Linked DNA regions of Homo sapiens: region 1 is linked to region 2. The links come from fine-mapping of genetic effects on gene expression. A gene starts in region 2. The other region holds a variant in brackets. All regions are shown on one strand. Distances are from middle to middle. Region 1 overlaps MXI1 (MAX interactor 1, dimerization protein). Region 2 holds the start of MXI1 (MAX interactor 1, dimerization protein).

Region 1 (4,391 bases), 62 kb before region 2:
TTCTCAAACTACACAGATACCACATAGGCTGAAATGTCATTTAGTCTTTACAACTCAGAAATATGAAGAACATGAAGTGCCACTCAGTCAATAACAATTATCATCAGTAAACAATAGTGCCTTATTATACCACTGAGCTAAATGCTATAACGATTTTTCAAGTTGTCAGTAGTATAATCTTTACCTGTTTGAAGACTATAATTTAGTCCTCTGCCTACCACCTTTCCAGCCTCATTTCCCATAACTCATACCCTTGCAAACCTCTTCCATAACCAAATGTGCTTTTATACTTGCCAATATCTCTACCTGGAATGCATTCTCTCCAAATGTCCACCTGGTGGGCATCTAACTCATTTTCAGGCCATGGCCAAACAATTTCTTCCACAAGATCATCCTTGCCATACTCCTTCCTCAGATGATACTTGATTTCATACTAATCACACTGTATTTCAATTGAGAGTGAATCCATACTTTTAGTCATTTCTGTTTTTCAAATAAACAGAATGACTGGCACACAGTGGGGAGGAGAGATGTAATACTTCTAGTGGATGTTTCTGGGACTCTCTAACTCACCAAAGTTGAGGTAACAATCAACACCAGGACCTCCAAACAGTATAATCAGATGCCAGGCCAGCATTTGTGAGAGATCTATTTATGAATGCCAGAACTCTTAACCTTTTTTTTTTCTGGTGCAGCTGAAATCACCAGCAAATGTTAATAAGGTGCATACCACCAAAGATGTCTACATGTAGAGTAACCAACAGTCTCCAACCTAACTCTTGATGAGAGTCAACACTTTTTTTTTTTTTTGAGACGTAGTTTCACTCTGTTGCCCAAGCTGGAGTGCAGTGGCGCGATCTCGGCTCACTGCAACCTCCGCCTCCCAGGCTCAAGCAATTATCCTGCCTCAGCCTCCTGAGTAGCTGGGATTACAGGCATGTGCCACCAAGCCTAATTTTTTTTTATTTTATTTTACTAGAGACGGGGTTTCACCATATTGCCCAGGGTGGTTTCGGACTCCTGAGCTCAGGCAATCTGCCCGCCTCGGCCTCCCAAAGTGCTAGGATTATAGGCATGAGCCACCGCAACCGGCCAACACCTTTTTTAATAGTGAAGCAAAGGGTTTAAGAACTGCAGCTTTTACAACAGAATGACTTTATCAAAGTATTTACAGTGAAAGGGGCCTAGGACTAGGAAAACAAACAGCTAAGAAAACCAAGGTATGAGAAGGGAAAGTCTAAAAAGCAATATTCCACAATGCAAAGAAGAAAAAAATTAAGTCAACAGTTCTTAATCCCATGTAATAAATGAGAAACTAGTGTATGCTTACCAGATCCATGGACTGCTTGCTAAGTTGAAGACTATAGTGCAGAACATATAAACAACTATTTTTTTTAATTATCCTGCATTCATGTCTAAGGAAGACTTCATTTTTGACAGCCTCATTTGAAAAAAAAAAAAATAATTAAATCTTGTTCCAGAGGCATTTGTTCTTCACTGGAACTCCCACAAGGAACCCAAACTCCAAAGTGATTTAACAGAAATTGCTCACTTGACATCCATTCTGTGCTAAATTTAGTTTCTATGCATACTTCCCCTCTCTTATCTGTTTATAAGGATTTAGTTAAAAAGAAAAACTTGATCATTCATTCACCATATTTCTTCTTTGGTCACACAAGAACTTTCTGTATTCCAAGTTTCAAAGTCTGGGAAATAGGGCTACATCACTGGAGAAAACAGTGGCAATTTGTTCTAAATACAAAATAGCTTATTTTCCTTTGGCAACTTTCCAGGGGTCTGGGTAGAGGGAAGGGATACTCCTCTCTAGAGAGATCAGGCTCTGAACCTGGACTACTGTCAAAACTTAGCCATCGATGGGAGAGAATATTTTTTAATTATCTTTCACATCAATTTGGAAACTGATTAAAGATTTTTGCCTTATTAACAGTTTTTCTACTCTTTGGCCTTTTGTTGGTGTTCATCTCTATTCTGGCAGCCCCCATTGGCTGATTTAATGGTACCAAGGGGCTGAGAAGTGTTGCTGTCCAAAAGAAAAAGCATTCTCTCACAGGGACTGGGAAGGCAATCTGCAATCACAACAGTAGCTACTTGTTAACTTTCTATTTGAAACACAGTGATGTCAATAGTATTGTACCCTGCCAGCCACCATGGGGTAAAGTACATTTTGAAACCAAAACAAACTTCCTACGTGCTGGCAAGTGAGATCTGAGACGCAGTGATAATGTTCTACAAGACACTGACCTAATTTTATGTACAAAATGCAAGAATTAAGTCTTCTCTTCTACAAAAGTTTAAGTCTAACTCTCACAGCTCTATTCCCACCCAGAGCCCAGTGTAA[C/T]TGCTTTATTGTATCAAATTATTGTCCAGGATGGAAGAGGGAAATGACGAAATACTGTTACTGATCTCTAATTAAAATGGTGATCTTACATAGCACAAAACAGCACATTTAAAGAATGCTTTGTAATATAGCTGTTCATCTAGAAGCAGAAAATGAAAATAGCAAAGCACCTTTAAAAGTGGCCCTACTAATAAGATGTGAGTTGTATAATAGCTCATTTTAAGGGGAATATTCATATAGGAGGAAAGACATTTTATTAAATGGAACAGGAACAATCTGGCCCAAGAATTAATTCATCCCTGGAAGGCGAATATTCATAATTTGTACTGAATATGAGCAACCTGAAATAGAGAGCTAAACGATTAAAAGTGGTAACCATGCTTACTACTGGCAGATGGCAAATGGTTTGGCATTGCTGGACATCTGCCAATCCAGTCAAGCCAGCCAGGAATTATTTTTAAAGTCCCATTTTAGAACAATTTTCCCAAAATCAAAATGCAGTTTGTTTTTTGGTGAGGAGGAGATAAAATTTGCAGTAGAAAAAGGGTAACAAAGAGGAATTGTTGGCCAGTGTGTATGTGTGTATGTGTTGTTGTTGTTGTTAATAACTGAAGCATTTACAGGCCATTTGCAACCTCTGGAAAAATAAAATTTACAGAATTTAAAATACGCCATAGTCCCTGATAATAATAGAGAATCAATGTTTTGGTATGTCTTTTTATTTCTAAATTACTTAACTGTTTTGACCTCTCTTTCATTATACTGTATCACTTTTTTTTTTTCCTGACCACAAAGGGCCCAACTGAAGAGTAGTTTTTGAGAGTAACTTTTGGAGGCAGCCTAGCATAACACAACACCTGGCACCAATCCTGGGCATGCCCTCCTCTGATAAGGCAGAAATTTTCTCAGTGTTATATATAGTAGGGCACTTACAGATTAGCACTTTTAGGTAGATAGAAAGTGAACATGCCTTAAGAACTACTTTATTTTTTAAAACCCTTCTGAAAAGGGAAAGGTGTTTGATAGATTAACAACAATTACAATTATCTCCTCTTTATCAAGTAAAAGACTGGGTTCAAGTTATATCTGGGTTGCAACATTACACTGTGTGACTTGCTTCTATTTATATTTGTCTAAATCTTAGTTTGACTCTCCTCTAGAAAAGCCCAGGAAAAGATTAAATGAGAGAGGAATCAAAGCTCTAGTATTTATTTTATATGATTCCAGCCTCAGCTCAATACCATTACAGTTTTCTAAGGACTGCTACACAAGTGCTATTATTTTCATTTCATCAATAGCTCAGGAGAACAGCCCTGAAAAATCTATACAGTTCCAGGGATTTGAGAAAAGAAGGAAGAGACAGGTGGAGGGGAACATGTTTTATTTTGTTACCATTGCCAGTCAATATTTTAGTTGTTCATCAGGCAGGTTGTGTGGCTCTCTCGCCTAAGTATATTCCAACAGCAAGAACATATTGACCACTACTCCAACTAAAGAAGCCAGTAGAGTATGGAGGTTAAATTTTCCAATCTTGGCTACATTTCCTTTCAGATACTGCAGGATGAAAGTTCTAAAACATCTTTCAGGATCACCAACAACTGTTATCTCACAGAACAAAAGGCATATGAAGGACACTTTGACATTTTGGAAAATAAGACCCAACATATATTCTGTATTGTCTTCTAAGAATATCAATATTTCTTGAACATTGCAAATCAGCCAAACCCATGCTCCCTCATTCATCTGACCCAATATATGCTAGCAGTAAATTCCAGCTGTTTTCAAGGACATTCTAAGGGCCCCATCACCAAATTGCTTCTTTAAGAAAAATTCTTTTCCATTATAAAAATAGCAGTCTTGAAAAGTCAATCAGCTCTATCTAAATTGTGTTATGTTTACAAATGTTTTAACTGCAAAGATGGGATTTCTAATCAAAAAAAGAACCTTATTTAGAGAAGAGTGATTTTTTTCACAGCTTTGTCGAATACAAGCTGTTCTGTAAAGGAATAATTGTGAATCAGGCTGGAATAAA
Region 2 (4,391 bases):
TTGCGAAGCGATTCGGCTGCACAGCCTGCGATGCGCCTTTCTCGCAACCCAGGCACTCCGGGAAAACAGGCGAGAAGAGAAAGAAAAGAACGCACCACCGACCTCACAACACAAATCCTCGTTTTGGCCTTACAGCGTCTGCACAATTGCGCTGCCAACACACGGTTCCTTTAACCCTGAAGACCTGGGGTATCAGTCAGCAATGGTGTTTTTGTGTCTGAGGGTTGTTGTGTTGGGTGGGGGGAAGGTTGCAAGATCTGACACGTTGCAATCGGGACCTTTCTTCTTTCTTTCTCTCTCTCTCACACACACACGCGCACACGTACACACACACACTCGCGCCTCATTGATCTTCCTACTTGTTCGGACACATTAAACATCCCGGTTTCCCCCTATCTGTCGGTCTGTCTGCCTAGTTCCCTTCCTCCTTTTCACAGCTATTATTCTGAGGACGGTGCTGGATACGCTGCACACGCGTGCCCCCGTTAGGGCGCTGAGTCGACTGCCTGGGGAAAGCTGGGTGACCTGGCTGGTAGGGGCAAAAATGAAACAAATAAATACAAAAAAGAAGCCAGGCCAGGGTGGGGTTCCCAGCACACCCCCACCCACGCACTACTATCCACGTGAATCTGGGGGTGGGCGGGTGGGGGGAGTAGAAATCGACCAGGAAGGCGTTTGCCTTGCTTGCCCTGTGCGCTCACTCAAGAGCCGTCTCCCGGAAAATAAAGAAAAAGCACAGAACAGCCCACACCTTCTTCCCCAACTATTGTTTCTCAAAGATCCCAAAGTTTCCTTCTAGCCGCGTCCCCACGGCCAAGTTTCCCGGGCTCAGGACGGCGTGTCCGGGGCGAGCTGCTGGCGTTGCTTGGCCCCGCCGGCCTCCTTCTTTGGGGGGGGGGGGGCGGCGGTGGCACCCCACGGCAACGGACGTGCAGGGGGACTGTGTCCGTAGACGTGATGGCCTGAGCCCAGTCCTGCTGCTAGAGGGAAGGAAAAAGGCGAAGTAGGAGGGAGAGAGAGAGACAGAGCCGAGCCCACGCCGTGGAGAGCTGTTTGGTTGTTATTGTTGTAGTGTGTGTCTGTGTGTTTTCTTTCTGGAACCTCTGAGCTCTGCCTATGGTTTCCAACTTTCGGCTTCTAATCCCCACCCCACCCAGGAACGAGCAACAGAAAAACAACACTTGTCTGCCTGAGAAGGCTCCGGAAAAAAAAAAAAAAAAAAGGAAGAAAAGCGACCTCAAAGAGATGAGCTCTCGGCTCAGTTGTCAGCAAACAACAACACTCCCCCGCTCCTCCGCTGGGCCATCCTCCCAGCCCCAGCCCGCCGGAGAGGACAGACCGACGCACCGACAGGCCCCTCTCCCCCTCGCCCGTCTTTGTTACATCTTTAGCAGCTTTGTGCGTGCGTGTCCTTTCTCCGGTGTCATCGGCTTTACTGCCAAGGGCTGGATGTGTATGTTGGGCGGGGGGGGGACGGGCCGAGCTCGCAACAGGGGTCGCCCAAGTGGGCGAGAAAGAAAGAACCGGGCGCCGAGGAAGAGCAGGGGCCCCCAAACTTACTTTTGTTTTCTTTCTCGATCTGCTCCAGGTAGCTGGCGGCCTCGAGCAGAATCTGCACGTTCTGCAGAAAAGTGTTGATGTGCTTCTCCATCGAGTTCTCGCTGGTGTTGAAAATGTCTGAGAAGGGGCACCTGGGCTTGGCCCCAGCGGGGTCCTCGGGCAGGGCCGGGGGCTGGGGCGCGGCCACGGCGGGGGGCACAGCCGGGGGCGCGGCGGGGGCCAGCCCCGCGCCCTCGCAGCGCGCCTCCTTGCGCGGCCGCCCGCGTTTGCCCATGGAGGAGCGGGGGTCCGCCGAGCTCGTCCTCTAACGGGGCTGCGCGGCCCGGCCGAGCTCCGGGCCCCCAGGGAGACCCGGCCGGCTGGAGCAGAGAAGGCGCCGGGGCGAAAAGCCGGCCTGACTTCCCGAGCCTCGCTGCCTGCAGTTGTGTGTGTGAGTGTATGGGAGTGTGTGTCGGTCTCGCTGTGAGTCTGTGTGTATGGGAGATTGAATGAACCTACAGGACAGACGGAGGCACTCTGGCGCCTGGGTCCTAGTGCGAGCCTGTCGCCATCGGACCGGTCAAAATAAAAGGTGGAGACTAGCGAGCGAGGCAGGGACCGCCCCTGCCCGTCCCCGCAGGCTTCCCTGCCTCTCCCCAAGGCTTACCACAGAGTAGAACACTGTCTTTTAACCGGAATGGAAAAAAATACCTGATGTCTCTGGGTGCACCTGCATAAAAACAAACTACTTTTTTCACAGAAAAATAATGCCTCAGAAAGTGTCCAGCACAATGCCTGGCACATAGTTAGGTCCCCATACATGGTGGCTGCTATGACTTAAAAATAAATAAATAAAAGCTCCCCAATCCAAATGGGAAGAAGGGAACCAGTGTGTAACCAGAAGATCCCCCCACCCCCAACACAAACACTCCTACTCACAGACACACATACATACGTAATCACGCACACACTTGCGAGGCACCTGTGTGTGCCTTCACACAGTCAAATGAAATCCCAGGCCGTCCAAATCCGAGTTACAGATTTACTCATGCCTTTCTCCCTTCAAATGCAAAGTTATTTTCCAGAAGTGGGAGGAGATGTCAGCATCCCTCTCCACACTCCTCTGCCCAGCCTTGGTTCAGCTGTGCAAAGCTCACACCAGGATGCCTCCACACCTGGCTCCCTTTAATTTGAGAGGCAGAAGTGGCAGCTCAGGAACCACCCCCCTCCCCAGCTGAATTCCACCTTTTGCCTCTGAAAACCCCTACCCCAGCTGACATTGTTTCACTGCCACTGCTGTCCGCAATCATGGATGCTTTCCAGCCCTGGGAAGTACTGGAGGTGTCAGGGGATGATTGAAGGCTGCTCTAGGGTGCCATAGGAAAGGGTTCAAATCCCAGCTCTGCTGCATACAGACTGTGTGAGCTTGGACAAGTCCCTTAACCTCTCTTGGCCTAAGTTTCCACATCATTGAAATGTGTGATAAGATGCTTGTGTATTGTATCTGACTTAGCACACTCTGGCCCATGGTAAGCTCTTTTTCTTCCAATCCAGACCCAGGCAAGAGCCTGAGTCCCCTATTCTGATGTAACTTGTATCTAAGAAAGGAACAAGATGTAGTGAACAAGACTCTTCTGCACTTCCTTGGAAAATATCTCTATGACAAGCCCATCTAAATATGGTTACTTTGCAAGGTCACCTGGAGTTTTCCTCCAGGGGAACCATTTATATAGAGGACAAAGACAATGCTGCCCCCTGGAGGTGTGCGATGCAGCCACCCTACTCAAAGGCAGCTTCATACACATTGTCATAAAAACTCTTGATGGCCGGACGCAGTGGCTCACGCCTGTAATCCCAGCACTTTGGGAGGCCAAAGCGGGCAGATCACCTGAGGTTGGGAGTTCGCGACCAGCCTGACCAACATAGAGAAACGCTGTCTCTACCAAAAATACAAAATTAGCCGGGCGTGGTGGCGCATGCCTGTAATCCCAGCTACTCCGGAGGCTGAGGCAGGAGAATGGCGTGAACCCGGGAGGCGGAGCTTGTAGTGAGCCGAGATAGCGCCACTGCACTCCAGCCTGGGCGACAGAGCCAGACTCCGTCTCAAAAAAAAAAAAAAAAAAAGTTTATCTTCCATTATTAGAACAATTACTGATTTTTTGCTTCTGTGAGAACCACAACCTGAGTTATTCGTGTTGAAATGCCTGTAAACATCTAAAAATGTTAGGAAGACCTCATGTATGCACAGTTTCAAACAAGCTTTCTCCAATGCCATTTTGCAAAAACTGGCCCTTGTGTGAAACAGCTCTGATCTCTCTTGCCCCAAATGAAAGATGGTACTGAGACAATGAACCAGCTAAGCCCAGAGAAAACCTTGCTTTCTCTTTAATTGCCCATTGGTGGCATGGGTCAGATGTATAGTACTGCAACATACATGCACCACCAAGACAGGCACACGCATGCATGAGTGCCATGGTGGGGGAAGGGTGTTTTGTAATTATTTATTTATCCCTGTTCCATCTCTCATAGGTCTGCGAGTTTCAGAAAGCCCAGTGGGAATCTTCAAGCTGGGCCACGGATCTGACCAAAGCCAAAATAAACAATGGCTTGAAGAAAATCTACAAAAAAGTGCTGATTTGCACTATTCCCACAGTCGGCCACAGCCCCCACCATCATTCCCATGGAAAACACCACGGCTGGTGCCAAATCAAGTTTTCCCCCCATCATAGGGGCATTGTTTTTTGTTATTATGTGAGTTCTTAGCATCAGACAATGGCACCACAAGAGACACAGTGGAAGCAGGAGAAATGCCTTTTTGTTTCACAAAGTCTGTGTTACTGTGCCCCCAGAGT

The links. PIP is the estimated chance that this variant, and not a neighbour inherited with it, causes the effect.
Region 1: its variant is fine-mapped to the expression of MXI1 in T cells (TOPMed, PIP 0.96).

The regions. Positions count from the first base shown.
Region 1 is chr10:110,267,511-110,271,901 of GRCh38, reverse strand. The region is part of intron 3 of MXI1 (MAX interactor 1, dimerization protein); the gene reads right to left. Among named protein-coding and RNA genes, the nearest start is that of SMNDC1, 35 kb to the left of the region's middle. The variant C/T (reference allele first, on the strand shown) is at 2,360.
Region 2 is chr10:110,205,252-110,209,642 of GRCh38, reverse strand. It overlaps MXI1 (MAX interactor 1, dimerization protein), which reads right to left and starts at 2,038. Exons shown (of 6, transcript NM_130439.3): 1 at 1,561-2,038. The coding sequence starts at 1,834. RefSeq lists a silencer at 1,788-1,867 and an enhancer at 3,457-3,957.